7 linked regions of the Homo sapiens genome follow. The protein of the gene in region 7 purifies or fractionates together with the protein of the main gene of each other region. This does not show direct contact. Each region holds a gene or a part of one and is shown on either strand. Other genes may lie near its edges.

Evidence for each region.
Region 1: the proteins of PARP16 (region 7) and CRELD1 purify together in Homo sapiens (affinity purification with mass spectrometry, with the first as the bait; one large-scale study listed by BioGRID). This does not show direct contact.
Region 2: the proteins of PARP16 (region 7) and RAI14 purify together in Homo sapiens (affinity purification with mass spectrometry; 3 studies listed by BioGRID and IntAct, with this or other methods). This does not show direct contact.
Region 3: the proteins of PARP16 (region 7) and COG5 purify together in Homo sapiens (affinity purification with mass spectrometry; 3 studies listed by BioGRID and IntAct, with this or other methods). This does not show direct contact.
Region 4: the proteins of PARP16 (region 7) and NEDD1 purify together in Homo sapiens (affinity purification with mass spectrometry; 3 studies listed by BioGRID and IntAct, with this or other methods). This does not show direct contact.
Region 5: the proteins of PARP16 (region 7) and B3GALNT2 purify together in Homo sapiens (affinity purification with mass spectrometry; 3 studies listed by BioGRID and IntAct, with this or other methods). This does not show direct contact.
Region 6: the proteins of PARP16 (region 7) and UBE4A purify together in Homo sapiens (affinity purification with mass spectrometry; 3 studies listed by BioGRID and IntAct, with this or other methods). This does not show direct contact.

Annotation. Positions count from the first base shown.
Region 1 is NC_000003.12:9,932,603-9,936,633, forward strand, and holds the start of CRELD1 (protein disulfide isomerase CRELD1 isoform 2 precursor), read left to right. Parts: upstream 1-1,231; 5' UTR 1,232-1,318; intron 1,319-1,448; exon of another isoform or gene 1,449-1,817; 5' UTR 1,818-1,836; coding exon 1,837-2,010; intron 2,011-2,232; coding exon 2,233-2,315; intron 2,316-4,031. Other genes in the region: IL17RC (interleukin-17 receptor C), read left to right, coding at 6-101, 218-256, 351-991. UniProt on the Homo sapiens protein: Protein disulfide isomerase. Promotes the localization of acetylcholine receptors (AChRs) to the plasma membrane.
Region 2 is NC_000005.10:34,830,220-34,833,112, reverse strand, and holds the end of RAI14 (ankycorbin), read right to left. Parts: intron 2,426-2,893; coding exon 2,348-2,425; 3' UTR 501-2,347; downstream 1-500. UniProt on the Homo sapiens protein: Plays a role in actin regulation at the ectoplasmic specialization, a type of cell junction specific to testis. Important for establishment of sperm polarity and normal spermatid adhesion.
Region 3 is NC_000007.14:107,280,921-107,284,420, forward strand, and holds part of COG5 (conserved oligomeric Golgi complex subunit 5), read right to left. Parts: intron 2,813-3,500; coding exon 2,651-2,812; intron 480-2,650; coding exon 380-479; intron 1-379.
Region 4 is NC_000012.12:96,938,257-96,941,756, reverse strand, and holds part of NEDD1 (protein NEDD1), read right to left. Parts: intron 1,349-3,500; coding exon 1,220-1,348; intron 1-1,219. UniProt on the Homo sapiens protein: Required for mitosis progression. Promotes the nucleation of microtubules from the spindle.
Region 5 is NC_000001.11:235,497,953-235,501,452, forward strand, and holds part of B3GALNT2 (UDP-GalNAc:beta-1,3-N-acetylgalactosaminyltransferase 2), read right to left. Parts: intron 1-3,500. UniProt on the Homo sapiens protein: Beta-1,3-N-acetylgalactosaminyltransferase that synthesizes a unique carbohydrate structure, GalNAc-beta-1-3GlcNAc, on N- and O-glycans. Has no galactose nor galactosaminyl transferase activity toward any acceptor substrate.
Region 6 is NC_000011.10:118,394,100-118,397,599, reverse strand, and holds part of UBE4A (ubiquitin conjugation factor E4 A), read right to left. Parts: intron 1,287-3,500; coding exon 1,160-1,286; 3' UTR 1-1,159.
Region 7 is NC_000015.10:65,262,884-65,266,383, forward strand, and holds part of PARP16 (protein mono-ADP-ribosyltransferase PARP16), read right to left. Parts: intron 438-3,500; coding exon 266-437; intron 1-265. UniProt on the Homo sapiens protein: Intracellular mono-ADP-ribosyltransferase that plays a role in different processes, such as protein translation and unfolded protein response (UPR), through the mono-ADP-ribosylation of proteins involved in those processes.

The sequences.
Region 1 (4,031 bases), on a different chromosome or scaffold from region 7:
CCCAGACATCCACAAGCGCTGGGCCCTCGTGTGGCTGGCCTGCCTACTCTTTGCCGCTGCGCTTTCCCTCATCCTCCTTCTCAAAAAGGATCACGCGAAAGGTGAGCGCTTCCCGGCTCCCCATTCCCCTGGGGGAGGACCAGAGTGGCTGTGGGAGTTCTCCGAGGGAAAGCGGCGGCCGAGCTCACTGGCTGCCTCCGCCCCTCTCCCCTAACAGGGTGGCTGAGGCTCTTGAAACAGGACGTCCGCTCGGGGGGTGAGTGGGAGCAAGCGCTGGGCGGAGGGCCGCCCCCGGGGAGCCAGGCCTGTGCCAGCTCACCTCTTCCCTCCCCATCTGTTTTCTCCGGCAGCGGCCGCCAGGGGCCGCGCGGCTCTGCTCCTCTACTCAGCCGATGACTCGGGTTTCGAGCGCCTGGTGGGCGCCCTGGCGTCGGCCCTGTGCCAGCTGCCGCTGCGCGTGGCCGTAGACCTGTGGAGCCGTCGTGAACTGAGCGCGCAGGGGCCCGTGGCTTGGTTTCACGCGCAGCGGCGCCAGACCCTGCAGGAGGGCGGCGTGGTGGTCTTGCTCTTCTCTCCCGGTGCGGTGGCGCTGTGCAGCGAGTGGCTACAGGATGGGGTGTCCGGGCCCGGGGCGCACGGCCCGCACGACGCCTTCCGCGCCTCGCTCAGCTGCGTGCTGCCCGACTTCTTGCAGGGCCGGGCGCCCGGCAGCTACGTGGGGGCCTGCTTCGACAGGCTGCTCCACCCGGACGCCGTACCCGCCCTTTTCCGCACCGTGCCCGTCTTCACACTGCCCTCCCAACTGCCAGACTTCCTGGGGGCCCTGCAGCAGCCTCGCGCCCCGCGTTCCGGGCGGCTCCAAGAGAGAGCGGAGCAAGTGTCCCGGGCCCTTCAGCCAGCCCTGGATAGCTACTTCCATCCCCCGGGGACTCCCGCGCCGGGACGCGGGGTGGGACCAGGCGCGGGACCTGGGGCGGGGGACGGGACTTAAATAAAGGCAGACGCTGTTTTTCTACCCATGTGGCCCACACGCGTCTCCGTTTCAGTGGCGGGGCTGGCAAACGTCATTCCCTAGCCCCGCGGCCCTTTAAAGCCCGGACAGGTGCAGCTCGGTGCCGCCTCTGGTTGGCTGGCGTGGGGTGACGTAATGGCACATGGCCCGTCGCCATTGGCTGGGCGGCAAGCTCCGCCCCCTGGACTGCGGCGCGGGTGGGGGTTGTGCGTTTTACGCAGGCTGTGGCAGCGACGCGGTGAGGAGACGGCCCACGGCGCCCGCGGGCTGGGGCGGTCGCTTCTTCCTTCTCCGTGGCCTACGAGGGTCTGGATCCTTCTCTGCCGGCTCGTGGGCCGTGCCTTTGCCCTTCTGCGAGGCCCTGAATCTGATCCCTTCCCTTCATATCCGGATCCGGGCTCCTCCCTCCAAGCCCGGGGTTCCGGACACCTCCCCCAAGACAACCCCTCTGGCCTCCTCTCCTTCAGTACTTGGAATCTGATCTCTTCTCCCTAATTCTGCGGATCCGGCCCCTAATATTCTTTATCAGACCCTCAGACAAGAGGCTGACTTCTGCCCCCTTGTCAAGGAGCGAGGCCACTTTCCTCTCCACCCCATGCTAGCGAGGATAACTTATTTCTCTTCTGGAATTGCATCTTATGCGCCTTTCCCCACCCATCCCCACAGCCCCTGCAATACCCAGTTTGGCCTCTTTTGCTTGTAATAACGCAGATCCCAGCGCCACGGCACCTTAGAACAGACCTTTTTCTTTCTCGCGTGGGGCCTGACTCCTTCAGTGAAGCCTCTCCACGCCCTCTATCTGCAGGTCCCCAGCCTGGGTAAAGATGGCCCCATGGCCCCCGAAGGGCCTAGTCCCAGCTATGCTCTGGGGCCTCAGCCTCTTCCTCAACCTCCCAGGACCTATCTGGCTCCAGCCCTCTCCACCTCCCCAGTCTTCTCCCCCGCCTCAGCCCCATCCGTGTCATACCTGCCGGGGACTGGTTGACAGCTTTAACAAGGTGGGTGCACCGGCAGCCTCGTTAGAGGGGAACACAGCGATTTAGAGTGGGGAACTCTGGGATGCAAATCTGCGTGGATTTAAGTTTCATCTTGGTCTCTTACTAGTTGTATGGCCCTAGGCAGGTTGCCTTTCTGTGCCTCAGTTTCCTAGTCAGTAGAACAGTGAAGTGCTAGCATGTGCCAGGCACTGTACTTAGCTATTACTAATTTTCTGTTTCCAGGGCCTGGAGAGAACCATCCGGGACAACTTTGGAGGTGGAAACACTGCCTGGGAGGAAGAGAATTTGTCCAAATACAAAGACAGGTAAGGGGCTGCTGGGGGAAGGGGTGTATATTCCCCTCCCCGCCAAATCTCTGCTCTGCTGGTGTAGGGCTAGGAACTCTTGGGGAGCACTTATTCATTCAACAAATAGCACTGAACATCTATAGTATAGCAGTAAACAAGGCAAGCAAAATGCCCCCTTCCTGGAGCTCACATTCTAGTAGAGAAGACAAGCAGTGAATGAGTAAGTGAATAATATTATGTCAGATGAAGAACAAACAGTGAAGCACGGTAGACTGCAGGACGGTGGGAGGCAAGGTGTTCAAGGTTTGGCATTTGAACAGAGAGACAGGAAGTGAAGAAGCGAGCTATGTGACAGGGAGGGAATTGGGCAGAGGATGGGACTGAGCTTGGTGTATTTGAGAAGTGGCTGGAGTGGAGTGAGCCAAGGGGAGAGTGCTAGAAGGTGAAGGCAAAGGCTTAAGCCTCGAGGGCTACAGAAAAGAGTTTAGATTTTTTTTGGAGTGTAATGGGAAGCTCTTGGAAGGCTATGAGCAGAAAAAGTGATACTGTCTTCTCTACACCTTTAAAGATTACTCACACTGCTATGTAGCAAACGGATTGTAAGGGGCAAGGGCGGAGGAAGCAGGGAGACCAGTTTGGGAGGCAAGTGCATCATCTAGGTACAAAGGCAACACAAGCTAGTGTGGTATCTAGTGGAGGACATGATGAAGAGGTCACAGTCTGGGTATATTTTGCAGAGAGAACAATAGGACCTGGTGATAGATTCATTATGGGTATAGAGAAACAGTAGAATAAAAGATGCTTACTAGATTTTGGGCCTGAGCAACTGGGTGAGTAGTGCAGCTGTTTTCTAAGATGGTGAGATGCGAAACCGAGAAGGTTTAGGGGAGGGGTGGGATGTGGTGTTCTTTGAACGTATTGGGCTGAAATGTCCATTAGACATCCAGGTAGACTCCATACAAATCTGGAATTCAGAAAAGAGTAGGAATTGGAAACAGGAATTTGAGAGTTGTCATTATATAGTCAGTATGTAAAGAAAGCCATGGGAAGGATACAGAAAGCCATTATATAGTCAATATATGTAATACAGAAAGCCATTTATATAGTCAGTATGTAAAGAAAGGCATGGGAAGGATACAGAAAGGCGAGCCCTGAGCCCTCCAGCTTTTCAAAGTCAGATGGAAGAGGAGTCAGCAAAGGCTCAGAGTTAGACCTGGTTGTCGGTTCTTAACCTCTCAGAGCCACAGTTTCTTCACCTGTAAAATGGGGATATTAATACCTGGTTTGCCTATTTCATAGAAGTGTGGAAAAGGCTTAACTGGGATGCCCACTAGAAATAAAGGTTTTGTTATTATGTAACATTGGTCATTTTCTCTTTTCCTTCGCCGGGCCTGAGTTTCCTCATTCAGGAATGAGGGGATTGGCTAAGACAACCCCAGAGGCACTTCCAGCTTTGTAATGGCTCCTGCGTTGCTTGCTTTTTTAAATCACCTCCTATATGCCAGGCACTGTGCCAGACCCTTTAAATACAGGATATAAGACATCAAATATTTATATATGTGTGTATATATATGTGTGTGTGTATATATATATGTGTGTGTATATATATGTGCATATATGTCTGCGTATATATATGTGCGTATATATATGCGTATATATATATATATATGTATATATTTGTGGTAAAATACACATAAAAAATTTCCCATTAAAGACATTTAATAATATTTACAA
Region 2 (2,893 bases), on a different chromosome or scaffold from region 7:
TTTCATGTAATTTTGATTATGATTATAACCTGCAACAATTTTAATTATGATTTTAACCTTGCCAGAATTCACCTGACAAGAGTTTTGTCAGGAATTAATTGAATTGTCTTTGTAATGGGGCAGGAAAATGTATCTGGATTTTTTTTTTACATATGTATGTATTACTTTTTCAAAAAAAGCAAGAAGCAAGAGGGAAAAAAAATCCAGCGGAGGCTTCCAAACAGTTAAACAGACTGCAGATTAAATGAGAGGCAATTGTGAATTAAAGGCAACTGTGATTCAACTGCCCCAAAGCGGCTGATACTCAGGGCAGAGCTCAGGGCGAATCCAAGAGCTGGGAAAAGGAAATGATGTGAGACTTTGTGTGAGACAGTGCGGACAACTCATACCAGCTGAGCATAGCACAGACTAGAAAACCTATTACACTGAAATGCTATTGAACTGATCTTCAGAAGCCACGCAGATATGCTTCTGAATACACCAAAAATCAACACCAGAAATGCAAAATGAAACAAGTTTATTTTCTCCAATAACTTCTGTAAATTACAAAGACAAAATACTAAAAACTACAGCATATAACTTTTCAATATTTAACCAGAGTACTCGTAATAAATATGCATCCGGAAACAAGATAAAAGGCTACACCTCGTCAGGCATCCTACAAAAATGTCTCAAGTTTTATATACTCTGCAGCATTTCTGTGCGGGGGCAGAAGGGGCTGTTGTGTATTTTCTGAAGTGCTGTGACAAAAGGTCCTTTCACATTTCTTTGGAGCATTTTTGAAATTGCTTAACTATAATTAAACAACTTAAGAAAAGTAACACCAAGCTTTAAAGCCATTTTTGCTTTGCTGTCATTGGTCCTTATCCAATACAGATCAACATATCATCCAGCACAGCCAAGCACCCACTGAGGCCAAGCAGCCTTGTGGGACATGGGCCCTGTCAGAGCAGGCCCTACTTTCAGTTAAATACTTTGGAGAGTCCAGGATTCTGTCTCTCTCCCTCAACAAGATTAATGCCATAAGGGAAGTTGCAAGCGTGTTAGAAACATTTTTAACCTGAAAGTAAAGTGAACAGAAATATTTTTTTTCCGAGACCTCTGCTATGCACCATAATATTACCATATCAGGGTTTTTAGCTTCAAAGTTGAAAAACAGATTGGTACTAACAGTCCTTCTAGAGATCATTTATGGGCGCTGGTAGAGTCAGGGCATTCAAAACATTCAACGGGTAAAAGGAGGATTTGCTAGATTCAGAAATGCGCTACAATTCTGAAGACACCATGGCTGAAAGTTCTAGGGGTGTTGGTGGCAGCTCATATTAGGTCTGGCATACATAACTACCTTTTGCTATAGCTGAAAACTTTAAGGAAAAAGTTATATTTTTAAAAAGTCTCAAGCATGGCTACCTAAAAAGTATTTTGTTAATATAATCTACTGTAATTTCACTTATTTAGGAGTTCAGATATGAAAACATCTTTATGAGCCAATAAAAATATTACAGAGAAAAAAATACTTCTACAAAAGTTGAGGTTAAGAACTATGAGGCATTTCTTTTGGCTGTAAACACACAGTTTACTGTCCCTTGTTGAAACACAAATGTTTGGATTTCCTGAGCTTCACAGATAACAGCAGGAGGCAAGTTTGCATAGAAAATTTGCAGTATGTCAACAATTTACTTAAAAAAAGAACTTTTAAGGACAACTTGCTTTTGTTTTTAAGTTTCATATTTTAGTTAATAGTGCTCATCAAACTGAATATTGATAAGCAGGGTGATGAGATATATAAGGCAGATGGGAAGAAAACATGGAATTAGAGTTTTTAAATCCACAGGATATCATGATGAAGGGTTTTAAGCAGATACTTCATAACTAGTGCCATACTAATTTAGTTAGAAATTAAATCATGTTTTGGAATTGAAAGCCAAAGGCAAAAAGAGCTCTCCTGTGCTGAATGGCACTGCCCGAGTACAGGAATGGAAGGAGCATTCACTGCAGGAGGCCTCAGCACATCACTCGGTGGTGATAAAGCCACTCAGCCAGTCAGGGATGGAGGAGGGGGCCCCCCTGCCAGCATCAGGACCAGACCTCTGGGCATGGCTGATCCCAGCTCTGGAATCTGAAGGGATGACAGGGACTTTCACCTCTGCTGGTTTGAAGTCTCTAAGCAGTTCTGAGGCGGGCAGTCTTCTCCTGGGAGAAGTCCTCAGAAACCTTTGGAAAGGGAAGAAGCTACGCTAGGCCACAGTGCATACCACGAATGAGAACAATGGCAGCGGCTGCCGACAACTCTGGATCTAACACAAAGACAGATGACAAGGGGCAGTGTCCTGCCAAGGAATCCACTTTACTTCTTTTGAGACTGGTTTTTACACATGGTAAGGATTTGCTTCAGTACTTTCTGGACATCTTCATCCATCTGGCCCTAGGATATTCAAACACAAGATACTCATTAGAACCTAAATTAAGCCATGGCACTTTCTTCTCTGGGGAATGAGATGGCTGACTGCAATGAAGACCTGGGCTAATTCCCACATCTTTCACAGGAATGTCAGCCCTATCATTTCCCAAATTTCTATGAGGAACTGAGTCAAAGAAAGGGCCCTGCCTTTATCCAGCTGGAAGATGAGGTGGCAGTGTCTACCAAAACCCTCAGCAAAAGCTATCTGGGGTCTCAGTTGCAAATGTGAGTCCAGCAGCCAGAACACCAAGCATCATAGAGCCAAGGCAGCACTGGTAACTAAGAAGATCAGCATTGCTGGAAAATAAAGCCCCCGTCTTCCCAGTGGAGGACCACATCATCCCTCATTCCTCAATAAATGATGGGAGGGTGGGGCATGGTGGCTCATGCGTGTAATCTCAGCACTTTGGGAGGCCGAAGCGGGTGGATTGC
Region 3 (3,500 bases), on a different chromosome or scaffold from region 7:
TGAATGATATATGGAGTTAGTGGTCACACAAAAGGGAAAACTTGATTGATCATGCATAATTATAATTTATGTAAATTACTAAAATATTTAAATATTTAAAAATATATAATTAGGCCATTAATTGGCACATGCGTTAAAAAAGGAAACCTTATAAAACTTGCTTGTCTTCTGAAAGTGTATTGACAATGTGTAGGAGGGCCATTTTTTTGTTAACAAATTTTTTTTCTGGTTTAAATTCATCAGGAAGTTACAAACTTTCACTACAGTAAAAATGGAAGTAAGTAAATAGTCAATTCAATATTTATGATTAGTCAAGTATTATATAGTTAGTAATTTTAAATAAAATCATTAAAGTTTACAGATAAAGGAAACCACTTACAAGCTGCTCTGATTTTACACTGTATAACTGGATGGTCTTTGCCACATTTTTTGACACAGCTAATGTGAGGTTTGTATCAACAGCAGCAACATTTAGTTCACTGGAGAAAATGAAAACAGTTTTTAAATATTAGCAACATCATTCATCAACAAAGTAAAGAGCAAGATAAAAACTCAAACCCAATAAGCAATGTGGTTATTCTTTTTATAGATTTCACTGCTTCCAAGAACTGGTTGCATTGTTTCATTTTACCCCCTAATTTCAGCACTTGGAAAAAGTACCTGGAGATGGCTTCCTTAATGACCAGTTTCTCATTAACAAAAGCATGTCATATGTGGGTTCAGTCTGTGATTAAAGGAGTAAATTGTGTACAGATTTTTAAAGTAGCACTCTTGCTAATACTGATAAAGTGCAAGCAGAGGCATTGCATATCACAGACATCTGCAAGGAAATGACAGCTCTTGAATGGAAATGATGACCTTAAAGGGACATAGGCTAAAAATATAAATTACACATGATATATAAAGATACTCAGCTTCTGTAGAAATTATGCCAATTCATGCTAGTTTCAATAGAGTAGCTTTTTAAATAATATAAAAGCATAACAGGACTATAATTACAAATTTTTAAAATTCGGATTCTTAAAGTATATTTTTGTCATGCTTCAACTTTAACATTGGATTAATTGGGGTATTTGATCTGACTGCCAAAAAAAAAAAAAAAAGTATTTTACGAAGACCATGGAAAGAACACTAGAAATTAAAAATAATATAGAAACCCATATACAGATGGAAAGCAAGAAAATTATTGTCCCTAAAGTAGTAGAGTAAATCTTACCAGATTCTCTTTTTAAAGAAGTTGAAAGTTTGAAACAATACTAGAGCATACTATGTGTAACAAAAATGCACTTTCATACAGTATTGAGACATAATTTTGTTAATGTTCACTTTTAAATTTTATTAAACACTAGCATAAGCATGATTCTTCCAGTTGTAGATTATATTTGATTATAGCATTGTCAAGTTGCACAGAGGAATGGGAGAGATTCCTCTTTAACATTTACATAAACAGGTCAAAGAGATCAAGTTACTAAGACCTATAGTCAGAAGGAAAGTCAAGGCAATTGTGGAGAGATTTAGGACCAAGATGCTGGGCAATCTAGACAATTTGTAGGTACGTTTGCAGCAAAAGATATGCTTATGTATATTATTATACATGTGGCTTTTTATTTTTATTTTTTGAGACAGGGTTTCGCTCTGTCAGCCAGGCTGGAGTGCAGTGGCGTGATGTCGGCTCACTGCAGCCTTCGCCTCCCGGATTCAAGCGATTCTGATGCCTCAGCCTCCCGAGTAGCTGGGGTTACAAGCGTGCACCACCAGGCCCAGCTAATTTTTGTATTTTTAGTAGAGATGGCGTTTCACCAGGATGGTCTGGAACTCCTGACCTCAGGTGATCCACCCACCTCCGCCTCCCAAAGTGCTGGGATTACAGGCGTGAGCCACCATGCCTGGCCACCTGTGGCTTTTTAGTCTTACTCTTCCACGCCTCAGAATCACCATCTTCAAATCTTTAAAAGAATTTAGACCTCAGTCTCATACTATTTTTTATTCCTTAAAACGTCCATCTCAAATGTACAGATCTACTATTATGACAACTTGTTAGTCATGACAGAAACTGAGATAATTTCAACTGCAAATTGGTCTGGATAACTTTTAAATAAGTGTCTAAAGCCAACAGTATATAATTACATTGTCTGCAGGCATTCAGGTGGCACCTCTGCTAGGATATCTTCCCTTTTTAGTCTTAAAAGCTGTCACATTCACTTAAAAAGCTTAAAATAGCGAACACAAGCTAATCAAAGTTATATTCCTATTTCTGCCATGAAGCACGTTCTGGAGTTTAGGATAAAAAAAAGTTAACCTGTATGTTTTAGTTTCTCAATTTATAAAATCGTTTATTATATTTGATTTCTTGTGTAACGTAAGAAATTTACTATGATACAAAGAGCTAGGTTTACTTTGCATCCTTGGCAAGATATAGAATAATTATAATAGACTGTTTTTAGACTATATTTAAGGTATTTAAATTATTTATTAATTGGAATCTCAAGTACTTACTATGTGTGCACTCATTTACTATAAAATTCTTAATTTAATTGTGGGCCTAATTACTTGAATAATTTGAAAATAAATTAAAAAGGTACTGCTATCATATATCACTAACAAATATGGCAGTCATCTTATGGCAAGCCACTATATAAAAAATACATACCTTGCTATAGTTTTAATAATACCATCAAGTTCATCAGAGGAAGGAGGATTACGACCACCCGGGGGAAAAACCAAGTTGATAGGATCGAAGAGTCGAGATAAGGATTTTGATAGATAAGCAGCCTCATAGGGTTGTAGTGAGTCTTTCAAAGCCTTTTCTGGACTGTGGAAACAAAATTTTTTAAAAACTAACTTAAATTGCACAGAGCTAAATGCTATTGTATCAGGCTGTAAATACCTTTTTAAAAAATGCACCTCCCATAAAAATGTAACTCTATATTAAGAAAAAGAAAATAATTTGTTTCACAACGTACATATTTACCAATATATTTCATAATTAAACATTCAGGACCATAGTAACCTTTTTTTTTTTGAGACGTAGTCTCACTCTGTTGTCCTGGCTGGAGTGCAACGGCGCAATCTTGGCTCACTGCAACCTCTACCTCCTGGGTTCAAGCGATTCTCCTGCCTCAGCCTCCCAAGTAGCTGGGATTACAGCTGCCCGCCACCATGCCCAGCTAATTGTTGTATTTTTAGTAGAGACAGGGTTTTGCCATGTTGGCCAGGATGGTCTCAAACTCCTGACTCCAGTGATCCACCCGCTTCGGCCTCACAAAGTGCTGGGATTACACGTGTGAGCAACCGTGCCCGGCCTATATTAACATTTTAATCTCTACGTAAGTCCCCACTATAAATGCACAATAATATGCACCAATACCTACTGTATTATCTGTTTCCTTAAACTAAAAGAATAACAGTAAAATCCTATTAATGCTAATGGGGGCTATGCCTTTACTTGTAAATCATACCTATAGAGTTATCGAAGCATATGGAAGAAAGACCAGCCTGCA
Region 4 (3,500 bases), on a different chromosome or scaffold from region 7:
AAGAAAAAAGTAATTTATTCATTTGTCTTAAAAACTATTAAAGAGAATTTAATTTATAACTCAAACACTTCCAAAAAGCCCCTTTGTACATTCTTCAATGCAAAAGTTCCTCCAGAGGAGTCTCACTGGCCAAAACTCGCAATTCAGCACTAATCCCAGAAACCTTTCTCAACTCCAGCACTAGTCACTTTTCTCTCCACCTACATCCGTCCCTCTGTTTACCCTTTACAATGTAGTTTGATGTAGTTCGACTTCTCTTCATCCTGAAAGAAAAGAATCCTTCCTCTTTCAGTTTGACTTAGCAATTTAAATAGAAATTTGCAGGCCAGGGTAAGGCAGAAGATACTCAATAATTCTGTACCACCACGTATGTATTTATTCCTTCTGACTATAAAATTGTAGAACATTTGGAAAAGAGACAATTTTAAAGTAAAAAATGAAATTGTATAAGATAATGAGTGGATGAAACAACTTCGAGATCCTGCTGTTGACATGGTACACTTATAATAATAAATACACAAATCTTTGTGGGCTTCTCTGAGTATTTTCTGAGATAAATTTGTAGAAATGTAAATACAAGGCCAAAAAGTATGAATATATTAACTCTGTCAAATTACCCTCTAGAAATGTATCCATGTTATTAATATTGCTGTTAGCAATGAGGTAACTCCATTCCACTAAGAAAAACATTATGGATGTTAGTACCAAAAAGACACACCTAAACAATGTACTTAGTTCAGACACTATGAAGAATAACAAATAATGCTTCTATTTATCAAGCTGGCAAATTTGCTTTTTATTATGCCAACTTTTTTATGGGGTGGTGGGAGGTGTACACCTATACACACACAATTTTTTAAATTAGGAAGACTTTTTTGCATACCAAAACATCTAAAATTTTAGGAACATTAATTTAGAAGTAGATACAAGGGACAGATTGCCTATGAAGGTAAAAACTTCCTTCAAGAAACTTTTGTGGAAATTAAAATGCTAACTTGAGAGCTATTTGCATAATTCCCATGTGAAAATTACCAGCATATATTTTACAATGATAACATTTGAAATATCAGGGCAAAGAAAAAGATACCACCCCAGGGATGGAGAAAATTAGCAAACTGATCCGTGAATAGAGTTGGACTGAAGCTATTATTCACATCTTTTAGCCAGAATAAAAATATTAACTACCAGCAAGAGAACAGGATCCTCTGAACAGACTTACCATCTCTGATAGGTGAGAACATGTCACCTAAACTACTTTTCCCAGTATCATCAAAGCTGGAGAAATCCTGATTTTTTCCACTGTCTGTTTCCTTAGATAAAGTGTCTGTGTTTATGCTTCGAGGCAAACCTTATAGGAATTAGATATAAAAATCAATGTTATTACATCTAAATAAATTTTATCATAAGCTAGGTTGTAAAAATTAATGTATCACTCATATTGTTGGTAATATTACAACTATGAGCATAAGGAGAATAAAACAGAATATGACAAGAGCTAAAGTTAATCAGGATTTTCATGGAACAATAAAACAGAATATGACAAGAGCTAAAGTTAACCAGGATTTTCATGGAACAAAAGGTTCCTCAAAAGAAAACAGCTTATTTGTTCATACAGTAATACCTTATTTTAGCCATTTTGTTGGAATTTTTCTAAAATAATTTATATACTTTGCTGCTCTCTTAAAGTACACTGAACACAACTTACTTTTGCTATTGACTGACTCATGATCATCTACAAATGTGATTTTTTTTTAGTCTGTAAGGCATATAGAGCGATGCCTAACATACAGCAGGATTCAATTAATGTTACTTTTCTTCCCTGACTTGCAGTGAAGGGGTTTTCTGTCTTTTCTTTCACTAACAGTGGGAGCTTAACATTGCCCTCAGCATTACAGATCTCAAATGACTTCACTAACCTCCATAGTTTCAAAGAGGAAGCAAACCAGAACACCAAACTCATAAAGAATAGTAAGGTAGACAACAATAAAGAGACGGCAGCAGTTTATTTTTTCTGGCAGTGTATAAACACATGGCTTTAGAGTAGGGACCTTTTAAGAGGAGCTCAGCAGGCTCAGAAGCTTCTGTTTCATTACTGGAGTAACGACAGTTTTAGAGGTTCAAAAATTTTGATTAAAGTCTGCCATCAGGATTGGTAGCACATTACTGTATTACATTTTAAAAAGTGCTTTATTTGGCATCTCAGGCCCAAATGAAAAACTGAAAAGTCTGAGATGAAAACAAAGAACAGCCTGCATATCCAAAAATGCCCAAGACTGGCGAATAAAATAAACTTTTCTAATAACACCTGCTATAAAGTTAAAATATTACCAAATCATTTGTACTATTGTTGAAGAGTGTCTATAGCAAGAGTTCAGTTGTTACAAAGAAGAAATTTCCTCTCCTTTTTTCTAGGTCCTTAACATGTTTGAATGCATAACTCAGCCTCTGAAACTTTAGGAAACAGAAGTTTGGTATCATTTGAAAACAGCGCTAAAGTCTTATTCTTTTCTTCTTAAATGGTGATTTCCTTCTAAAACTAAGTACCAATAACAAGTTTAGAGAAGTTCTTTGAAATAACTGAATCAGGACAACTTCAATAGAAGCAACAGAATTTTTTTCTGAACTTTAATTTTATACAAAGCTTAAAATAATAATAGTGATGATCATGATGACCACAATGATAGTATCAACACCATAGTGTACTGAGTGCCTACCATGTGCCAGGTACTTCCAATACATTTTATCTGATTTTCACAATAACCCTAACAGTTAAATGTCATCTTAAATGTGTACAGGAAAAAAATGAGACCCAGAAAGGTTAAGAGAATTGCCTAAAAGCATCCTGGCCGGAAGTGACAGATCTGAGACTGAGTCTACTATTCTCAATGTTTCAGAGGCAAAGAAAAATGTGTGTGTGTGTGAGAGAGAGAGAGAGAATGAGAGACAGAGAGAGGAAGAGAAAGAGAATGATGAAGCAAATGTGGCAAAATTTATAAAGTGCATCTGCCAAAGGGTAATGCTCAGGAGTTATCTGTACTATTCTTAAAACTTTTCTGTAAGATGACAATCATTTCAAAATACAATTAATACACAAACATTGTTAATTTTGTGGGGGCAGAGCACTCACTTTGCCAGAAATGTTGGGAATCTACCAAGAGTTATCGTTAATCCATGACCCTGAAAGATCCAAGCCTTTGATTTGCAAATTAATGCTGTCTTTGTTAAACAAGAGCCTTCTTACTATAAAACTAAATGAATAATGGAGAGACTTCAGAGAGTTTACAGTGAATGAGAGAATCTTTATTTTGTTTAATTTTTGAAAATTTTGAAAAAAGATAATTTTCATAATATAGTTAATTCAACATGTTGGCAGACATTACTCAAAGTTATATTTCAAAAATAATTTCTTCCTTAAGTAGATATCAGTTGTCTTTGTCTCCAGGAGTTCCTAAATAAGAACTTAATTATTTTCCTAATATATAATGGCTCTTATATAAGGA
Region 5 (3,500 bases), on a different chromosome or scaffold from region 7:
ATGTCTAAGCTGCTTCTGTTCAACTGCTTTACTTTACATGCATTTCTCTTTTTCTTGCAGAGGGAAAGTAACACGGCATATCGTGGTCTTTTAGAGAACTACTTCAAGATATATTGAAGTCAAATGTCAGAAAAATAGGTTTTTTAACCACATACCATTAATGTAAATTAGTCCAATAGACTCCTGAGTACTGTGTTACACAGTACAAAACCCAAAGCAGATGCATAATAAAATACCTATGTAAGAATGTTGCTCAAATTTCTAGCTCCCTTTACCAATCTGGCTCTAAACTCTTATCACCTTTTATGTTACAAGAACAGGGTACCTAGTTGACTCCAGTGTCTAGAAACAGAGGGAAAAAAAGAAAGTGGTAAGAAGTAAACATGATACAGAAGGACATAAAGATAATTCAGAAAAGAAAAAAGGCAAATAGCAAGCCTATGAAAACATGTTCAACTTCAATAAGAATCAAGTTTGAATTAGAGCAATGAGACACCAGTTTTCTCCTACATTCAAACTGACAAATGTCTTCTTAAATGATTGTAACTAAATGATGGTACTTCAAGGAAATGTTGTTAGTGATTTCAACAAAGTGGCTACTCTCCGCCGGGCACGGTGGCTCATGCCTATAATCCCAGCTTCAATTTTGGGAGGCCGAGGAGGGCAGATCACAAGGTCAGAAGTTCGAGACCAGCCTGGCCAATATGGTGAAACCTCATCTCTATTAAAAATACAACAAAAATTAGCTAGGTGTGGTGGTGCATGCCTGTAATCCCAGCTACTCGGGAGGCTGAGTCAGGAGACTTGCTTGAACCTGGGAGGCAGAGGTTGCAGTCAGCCAAGATCCCGCCACTGCTCTCCAGTCTGGGTGACAGAGCTAGACTCCTTCTCAAAAAAAAAAAAAAAAAAAAAAAAAAAAAAAAGGCTACTCTTTTTCATTGCGGGAAGGAATGTAATTTGGTACAGTCTTCTGCAGGGCAATTTGGCAATGTGTCAAATAATTTAGAATGGTGTAACTTTGTCCAGCAATTCTAAGAACTCATTCTAAAGAAATAATCAGTGATACACTCAGAAGATCTTTATTAATCATAGTGTCACCTATTAATAGCGAAAAACTGCAAGCTACATAAACACATAAAGGACTCATTAAATAAATTATGGTGTAGCTATATGACAGAATACTATGCAGCCATTAAAATTACATGTTAATCATATCATTAAACATTATTCTATTAATACATCATATTAAGATAAACAGGCGATAGGAACTATGTAGATACTAGACGGTTCTGTTTATATAAAGTACAAAAGTAGCCAAATTTCTGCCACTGGTTACTATCCCTGGTAGTGACAAAACAGAGCATGAAGGGAACTTCTGAAGCACTGATAGTTTTCTTTTTTTAAATCTGGGTGGTGATTAGTTGGGTGTGTTCAATTTGTGAAAATACATCAAACTGCGCCAGTTTTATTCTCTTGATTTATTCACTCAAATGACAGAGCATCTCCTATGCTCATTGTTCTAGATGGCACAGATACAGCAGTAAACAAAATCTTCATAATGTCAGGACTAAATCACAATCCCAAGCAAGCTCCCTGAGGGCAACGTAAGGGCCAAGGGAAAGTTTTCCCTCTGAAGGTTCGGTGAAAATCACTGACAAGAGATGGACAGGAGAAAAGGCATATAAATTTATTTGATCAGTAAAGATACAGGAGAAAGTGCCCATTTCTGTGCTTAGGTTTAACAAAGTATAGATAGCTATGTGGAATTAAGATTGGACAGAAAGGGTAGGATCTAATGTTAACAGATGGAGTTGGAAAACCCAGCAAGGCCTGTCTAGATTCTTCTTGTCCTCTCTGAGTATACATTCTTTCCTACTGGGTATGGGATAGGACCCTCTCTGGTATGAGGTTCTTATGACCTTTAATAAAAGAAGGTAAGTTAGGTAATTTTTATATAGAAAGGAGGTGGTGGGGGCTAGTTAGAGTAATATGTTTAGGTTTTATGGCTGGCTTTGGGGAAGAGGGATTTTAGTTTCTACAGCTAGCCTCAGGTGAGAATGCAAGGCCAGAGAGAGGACAGCAGCAGCAGGTCAGAGACAGCTGCTTCTGAGGCCTTATTTTGGGGTATTGTTTTCTTCTGAGACCCTACAGTAAGAACTATTTCTTTTCTTAATATGTAATATATCCTGAGAGTCTGGCAACCTGCTCAACCCTGCACTGTGAGTGGACATCCAAAGGTATATTAAAGTCTAAGGGAGGGCCTGGCGCAGTGGCTCATGCCTGTAATCCTAGCACTTTGGGAGGCCGAGGTGAATGAATCGCTTGAGGTCAGGAGTTCGAGACCAGCCTGGCCAACATGGCAAAACGCAGTCTCTACTAATAATACAAAAATTAGCTGGGTGTGGTGGCACACACATGTAACAGAGGCTGAGGCAGGAGAATGGCTTCAACCCGGAGGCAGAGGTTGCAGTTAGTCAAGATGGTGCCACTGCACTCCAGCCTGGGCGACAGAGTGAAACTGTGCCTCAAAATAATAATCAAAAAAGTCTAAAGAAGGTTGACATCAAAATTGATTGCTCAAAATAAGCCCAAGAGTCTTAAAAATCACACCAAAATTCCACTCTGATATGCATGCTCTTGGAAGAGTCACAAATAGATACAAATCTTGAAAATGAAGAAAACATGTGAGCCTGTCACAGATCTAATGATAAAGACAATCATCATACACACTACCAAAGACACCTCCCAAAACACCACACTAGCACAGGCATCAGCGGCCACCAGACTACCACTCCTCTCTCAAACTCATGGAGTGTTTACTATGAAACAGGCACTGTTGCGGGTGTTTCATTAATTGAATCTTCACAATAAGTCTATGAGATCATCATCTTATAAATAAGGAAACTGAAGCACAGAGACACAATTAGCATATAGGGATAATTTTGGAAGAACTCACCCCAGGCAAAATTACAAAGCAAGCTCAATTTGTTTTCTGACCTTCTACTTGCTCTACATCTGTTTCCATTAGATACTGTGAGCACCTTGGGAGAAGGGACTAGGCATCCAGCACAGAATCTAACACTCAAGTACTTGTTGAGTGAATATGCTCCTTTGTTTTGGTTTCTTTCTTTCCAGATACCCTAGAAAGCGAAGCCTTCTTTTGTCACATCATTTTTCTAAATTAACCGTTAAATAATTCCTACTTAAGGCATTACCCAAAACGAGCATTTTGTAATCAAGATATCCTATGTTTAGATTCCTTAGTCCGATGGTTATCTCCACCTGCATTTTCCTCTGTCACCCTCAGGTGTACTGGATTTCACTTCCTCTTTACCAGTTGCTTTCCCTGACTGGTTTAAGGGAACCTATCACATTAAAAAAGTTGCTGACTCTGGTACTAAGGTGACTCACTTACTTCATTCTGGTCCCTGCTCAACTGTTACCTCTTCAGAATGGAATGGACTTCCCTGACCTATTTAAAACCATCTCTTTAATCTCTT
Region 6 (3,500 bases), on a different chromosome or scaffold from region 7:
TTATGAAAGTGGTGTCCACCTACCAACTACACAGGGCTAAGTGGATATTTAAAATGGCTGTGGACAAGGTTGTGCTCAACTTCCTACTTTGTTAATTGAAGACCTAAGGCTGTGTTAGAAGTAGCTCTTAGAAGTCAGGTCACAAGCTCAAACAAATATTAACTATATACATTTTATAATCTCAGAATTTTGTGAAGAATGAGTATGTTAGTAAACATGGCCACATACTGCATACATCTCACTATGGAAGAGAAAATATAAAGTGGTACTCAGTTTACACTAAACCAACAAAAAAGCACATGGGGTGTATGTGTATTTATATATCTCACACACTGAGATATACTGTTGATATTAGTGTCTTAAAATGACATTTTTCATGGATATGATACCCGTTGCCTAAATCTACTTAGGCCTAGTCCTTGTAGAAACAGATTTTCATAAGAGAATAAGGGCCCAACAGTCTCCTCACCCCCATCAATTGGTAGGATTGCCCTACCAATCCTCATTAAAAAGACTGTATAACAAAATTAAGAGCTATCAACAGAAGTTGCACAAGATTCCTTTAAATTCCTTTTTTAAAAAAAATTCTCGTCTATCATCTTATTCAGAAGTCTACACAAACTTAAAGGTATCTGCTTTTATGTGAAGTTACTCTGTAACACAGAAAAGGGGTTAAGTCTAGATCATGAGGACTAGTAAATACACAGGATAACAGGATTTTTCTGATAACATCAGCTGTCACTGAAATATGTGACATCACATATTTATAAAAGCAGCACTCACCAAAAATGTTTGAACAGTAATTGGAAGAGAAATAGCAGGGTGGCGGGAAGTTTTAGTAGTTGAAATAATATAATTTCATTTAGGAAAAGGAAGAAGAATATGAAGAGACAACAGAGGGTGAAAATTAGTGATGATTTCTAAACTTGGTGATGCTATAATAAGTATAATTTCCTGCAAGCCAGGGGAGCATTGTCAAGTTCTTAGGAATCTTAACTATCATAATTTCAGCAAGAGCAGTTCTCTAATTTAGTAAAAAAAAAAAAAAAAAAGAAAAAGAAAAGAAGAAAGAAAAGGAACAGAACCAGAAAGAGAGAAACCACAAACAATTGTTTATCTGCACTCTGGGGTTGGTTTTGGTTTGGTTAGTTCACAGTATCTATTCAAGTTGCTCCTTTTGTTGTTTCCTCTCTGCAAGCCACCGTTGGATTTTTTCTTTTAGTTCTGTGTTTGGCCGGATCTGGTCCATGGTGAGGGGACTACGGTTAAAGGGATCTGTTTGGTCACTGGGACAAAGAGAGAAAGGGAAATAGGGTTATTTCCATAAGTTCTAACATTCTAAGCCAAAAACAGAACACCTGGGCGTCGCATCTTAAGAATGAAGCCAGAGTGCATTATAACTTTGAGTCAAATGCCGAGTTGGGGTTAGAAAGAGTGAGAACAAGATGATTCAGGAGTTTTTGTAGCTACTTTGTCTATTTCTTTCTTTCTTTTTTTTTTTTTTTTGGAGACAGTCTTGCCCTGTCGCCCAGGCTGGTGCAGTGGCACCCAGGATGGAGTGCAGTGGCGTTATCTCTGCTCACTGCAACCTCTGCCTCCTGGGTGAAAGCTATTCTCTGACCTCAGCCTCCCAAGTAGCTGGGATTACAGGCCTGCACCATGACACTCAGCTAATTTTTGTATTTTCAGTAGAAACAGAGTTTCACCATGTTGGCCAGGCTGCTCTCAAACTCCTGGCCTCAAGTGATCCACCAGCCTTGGCCTCCCAAAGTGCGCTGGGATTACAGGCGTGAGCCACCCACCTGGCCTCTATTTCTTAATAAACTTTGTCTCAACACTGCTGTTCAGATGATATTTAATTACAGTGGCTTAAAAAATGCTATGCTTCTGTCACCTTTAGATTTCTCTAAGGCAGAGACACTATACATTCATGTCAGTGTAAAGAACTATTTGTAATTATAGTGACAGATTCTTAGAACAGTATGAGATGTTAAGGAATAAAGCCTTGTAGACCAACATTTGATTTAGTCAGCTGATTGTTATGCAAGTACATGCAGATTATGGTTTCTTGAAACATAAGAAGGTTTATGACAGATGTCAATCTTTTGGCTTCCCAGGCCACATTGGAAGAACTGTCTTGGCCTATACATAAGTTCTTGTAATGTTTTAAGAAACGTTATGAATTTTTGTTGGGCCACATTTCGAGCGATATAGTGAATGCTTAATACCAAATACCAAGAGGTAGAAAATTCTTTTTTTTTTTTTTTTCTGAGATGGAGTCTTGTTCTGTTGCCCTGGCTGGAGTTGCAGTGGCGTGATCTTGGCTGACTGCAACCTTTGCCTCCCAGGATCAAGGGATTCTCCTGCCTCAGCCTCCCGAGTAGCTGGGACTACAGGCACGTGCTATCATGCCCAGCTAATTTTTGTATTTTTAGTAGAGATGGGGTTTCACCATGTTGACCAGGCTGGTCTTAAACTCCTGACCTCAGGGTGATCCACCTGCCTTGGCCTCCCAAAGTGCTGGGATTACAGGCGTAAGCCACTGCACCTGGCCAAAAATTCATCTTTTTAATATTTAAAAATTTCCTTAACTTTGGGTCAAAGTATACCACATGTATCTATCTGTTTATTTAGAGACGGTGTCTTGCTCTGCTGCCCAGGCAGGAGTGCAGTGCTGCCATCATAACTCAGTGCAGCCTTGAATTCCTGTGCTCAAGCGATCTGCCTCAGCCTCCTGAGTAGCTAGGACTACAGGCATGTGCCATTATACTTGGCTAATTAAAAATAATTTTTTGTAGAGATATAACTTAATTTTTTTTTTTTTTTTGAGACGAGTCTCGCTCTGTCACCCAGACTGGAGTGCGGTGGTGTGATCTTGGCTCACTGCAACCTCTGCCTCCCAGGTTCCAGTGATTCTCCTGCCTCAGCCTCCCAAATAGCTGGGATTACAACAGGCATGTGTCACCACTCCCGGCTAATTTTTGTATTTTTAGTAGAGACGGGGTTTCACCATGTTGGCCAGGCTGGTCTCGAACTCCTGATCTCAAGTGATCCACCTGCTTCAGCCTCCCAAAGTGCTGGGATTACAGACGTGAGCCACTGTGCCTGGCTCGATATAACTTAATTTTAAATATGGAGAGGCCAAACAAGGTGGCTATGCCTGTAATCCCAGCACTTTGGGAGGCTGATGTGAGTGGACTGCTTGAGCCCAGGAGTTTGAGACTGGCCTGGGTAACATGGAGAGACCCCTTCTCTACAAAAAATACAAAAATAAATAAGCCAGGAACAGTGGTGCATGGCCTGTGGTCCCAGTTACTTGGTGAGGCTGAGATGGGAGGGTTGCTTGAGCCTGGGAGGGTGAGGCCACAGTAAGCTGAGATCATGCCACTGCACTCCAGCCTGGTGACAGAGCAAGACCCTGTCTCAAAAAAATAGATAAATAAATATATAAATAGGCAGAGTCTCTCAGTACTCATTTCTTTCTAATGCCGGACTAAAAA
Region 7 (3,500 bases):
TACTTCCTCTGAGCTGCCTCTGTGGGCCTCGTCAGCCTCCTTACCTGGCACCCCCTACCTACCCCCTTGTAGTGAATGGTCTCCATTGAGTGTTCAATCTCTAAGAAGACTGCTCGCTCCTTGGGCAGGACCCTGTCCGGCACTGCCCTGGATCCAGCCCAACCCTTGGGCATGCAATGGGTGCTCTACCCAACAGCTGGGCCAGCAAGAGCCTGTACACCCAACAGAGGCCTGTAGCCCAGGTCTGGACCAAGTGCTCACTCACCCTTCTTCTTGGTTTGGCACTTGACGTCCGGATGGTCAATGACCTCACACACGGCCACACAGCTAAGGATGGGGCCGAGGAGGCTGTGCTGCCACCCATGGCCATGGGGGCTGTATATGAGGGCCAGGCTCAAGTCACTGGTGAGGTAGGTCCCCTCTCCGAACAAGGATGTCTGCAACAGCAAGGCCAATGGAAAAGAAACACAGATGGTTGAATGTACAGTTGGCACGGCAAGACGACACAGGTCTCTCTTCAAGAGTTGTAAACACAAAATGTACAACCCCCGCTTTTTGCCCCAGCAAGACACAGGATCAAATAATCCTGTGATATCATCACAGGGTTATTACTAAACACATTCCTGCCTGACAACAGTTTAACTGATTGTGGATTTGGCCATCTGGCCTGGCAAACTAGCAGTTCCTTGTGGTCAAGGTTGAGTGAGAAAAACATAGGTATAAGCATCCAAACCAACCTCGGTTTGAATCCTCCAGCAAGTGGCAAGTTATATAAACTCTCTGTGTCTCAGTTTCTAGATCTACAAAATAATGTTACTAGTAGCTCCTTTACAAGGTTGCCAGTGAGGATTAAATGAGGCAATATACATACATAAAAGAGTGGGACATCTGGCACATCTAAATAAATGAGGGGCCAGTACTCCATTGCAGGCCTTTATGTTCTAGTATATAAAGTAATTCCTGTTACATGAATGCAGTAGGCATGGTTACTCTGATGGGCTTCAAATGCAAAGTCACACCCTTAGGTACAGGGAAGGGGTCCCACCTGAGAAGGGAGGTAATCTGAGTCATTACTTGGAAAAGAAATGAGTCTCTCACAAATAAATAAAAACATAAAAATTAAAAATAATAAATAAATTAGAAATTAGTCTCTTAGACCAGAAACTATAACAAAATGAGGGAGGCCGACATGCGGGGCAAGGTACGTTTTACTCTTTGTATTGGGGTTGACCAAGAAAACATCTAAAAATCTAGGCAGCATCTCCCTGGTGGTGCCCTCCATAAGGAAGCATGCCAGGTGAAGGACCTGTAAGTTGAGGCTACAGCAGGCATAGTGAACACATCTTTGCCCATGGTAGATGACCAATAACAAACCACAATTGCCAGCACAGTAATATCAAGCATGGCACTTATTCCTAATGATCCAGAATCCTCAACTTAACATTCCAGGTAGCTGCGACCAATGGATGGACATTGACGCTCAGGTTGAAATTCAACTGCTATCCCTGAGCCACACTATCAGTATCTCAAGATAAGTGGACTTGAATAGCTCACTGAAGAATATCTTATGCTCTGGAATTGAGAAATGTCCTTTTCAGTAGCACCAGGCTTCCAAAATCCTAAATCTGTTAAGTGAAGCTTAGGGGAAATGAAACAGACCTTTGCTTGGCCTTTGGGAAGCTCTTTGCCAAGTTAGGCAGGGTCTCCATCTCTCAAAAGCTGACACAGACCTTCTCCAATGACACTGGATGCCCTCTGATCTGACCCCACATCCATTCTCTGCTTATGCCATCATGTGTTCACCCTTCCTTAGACTTGAGAACCCCATGCAAGGCTGCCATGAGCAGTGGTGTACAAGAGTGGGAAGCTCAGTGTATCTCTGCCATGAAAACAGTATCAGTATCAACTGGCAGATGGACTCCCTCAAGCAAGCCCTTCACTGAAAACCCAGGCAGAGGGGCCATAGGAGGATTGATGTGCTTTACCAAAGGATTTTTGTAAGATGCCTCTAAGCAGCAAACTCCCTGGGGCACTAAAATGAAGGTTTAGTGTACAAGAGTATAATCTGCAGGCAACTTCTCCAGGCCAGCACCAGTGTAAAGGGGAAGCCCCCTGAATTCCAGTAGCCTGGACATAATGGTAAGCTGAGAGCCAGTGGTGGACTGAGAGCCAGTGTAAACAAGCCCGTCATCCTTAGCAAAACCCAACGACATTAACCAGATACACCAGGGAAATATCTCCAGTCTCAGGGCTGCAGCAGCCACAACTGAGCCCATGGCTCATGGAGCCAGCTCCTCACAGACAAGGCAGATACTGCCATGACTGGGGGAAAGGCCTGCAGCTCCTCCAACTACCCTAGATGCCCCTCCATCAGCATATAAAAGCAGCTACCTCTTCCTTGGTACTTAGTACACAAAGAGCCCTTTGCATACATGAACTGTTTTAATTCTCTGACATATAAGAAGGAGGGTAATGGTGTCCTTTTTTACAGATGAAGAACCTGAGGCTCAGAGAGTTTAATTTACTCAGGGCCATAGAGCTGCTAAGTAAGTCTCTGTAGCTCCAGGGTCTGTCTGTAATGCTCCTCCTATACCTGAGGGGTAAAATAAATGCCTGCAGAGAAGTGGATAGATGACTGTTTTGACTCATAAAAATGGGACAAAAGCAGCTCAAGAGGGGAGGGAAAGGACCTCTCCTCGGTGCATCTTGGCATATCCCTCAGTTTCTCCAAGGGCTGATTTCCTGGAGTGTGGTCCCCAAGGAAAGTGCTTCTCAAACTTCAATATGCATACAGATCACCTGGGGACCTTGTTAAAGTGTGGATTCCGATCAGGTGGTCTGCGCCTGAGATTCGCATTTCCAGCGAGCTACCAGGTGATGCAGACGCTGCTGGTCCAGGGAACGCACAGTGGAGCTAGGGTTGGCTACATAGTGGGATCACCTGGAGAGCTTTTAAAGCAACTGATGCCTGTGCTCCACTCGGAGATTCTCATTTAATTGGTCTGGGATGCAGCCAGGCATCTGGGATTTTTTATTATTTATTTATTTTATTTTTTAATTTTTGAGATGGAGTCTCACTCTGTCACCTAGGCTGGAGTGCAATGGCACGATCTCAGCTCACTGCCACCTCTGCCTCCCAGGTTCAAGCAATTCTCCTGCCTCAGCCTCCCGAGTAGCTGGGATTACAGGCACCCACCACCATGCCCGGCTAATTTTTGTATTTTTAGTATGGATGGGGTTTCACCACGTTGGCCAGGCTGGTCTGGAACTCCCTCAGCCTCCCAAAGTCCTGGGATTACAGGCGTGAGCCACTGCGCCAGGCCTGGCATCTGGGATTTTTAAAAGCTCCCCGAGTGATTCTAAATATGCAGCCAAGGTCGGGAACTATCTTTAAATCGACGCTTTTCAAACTATAACCAGTGCAGGAATCACCTAGAGATCTTGTTAAAATGCAGGTTCTGATTCAGAAGGTCTAGAGTGTGCCCAAGATTTTGCATTTT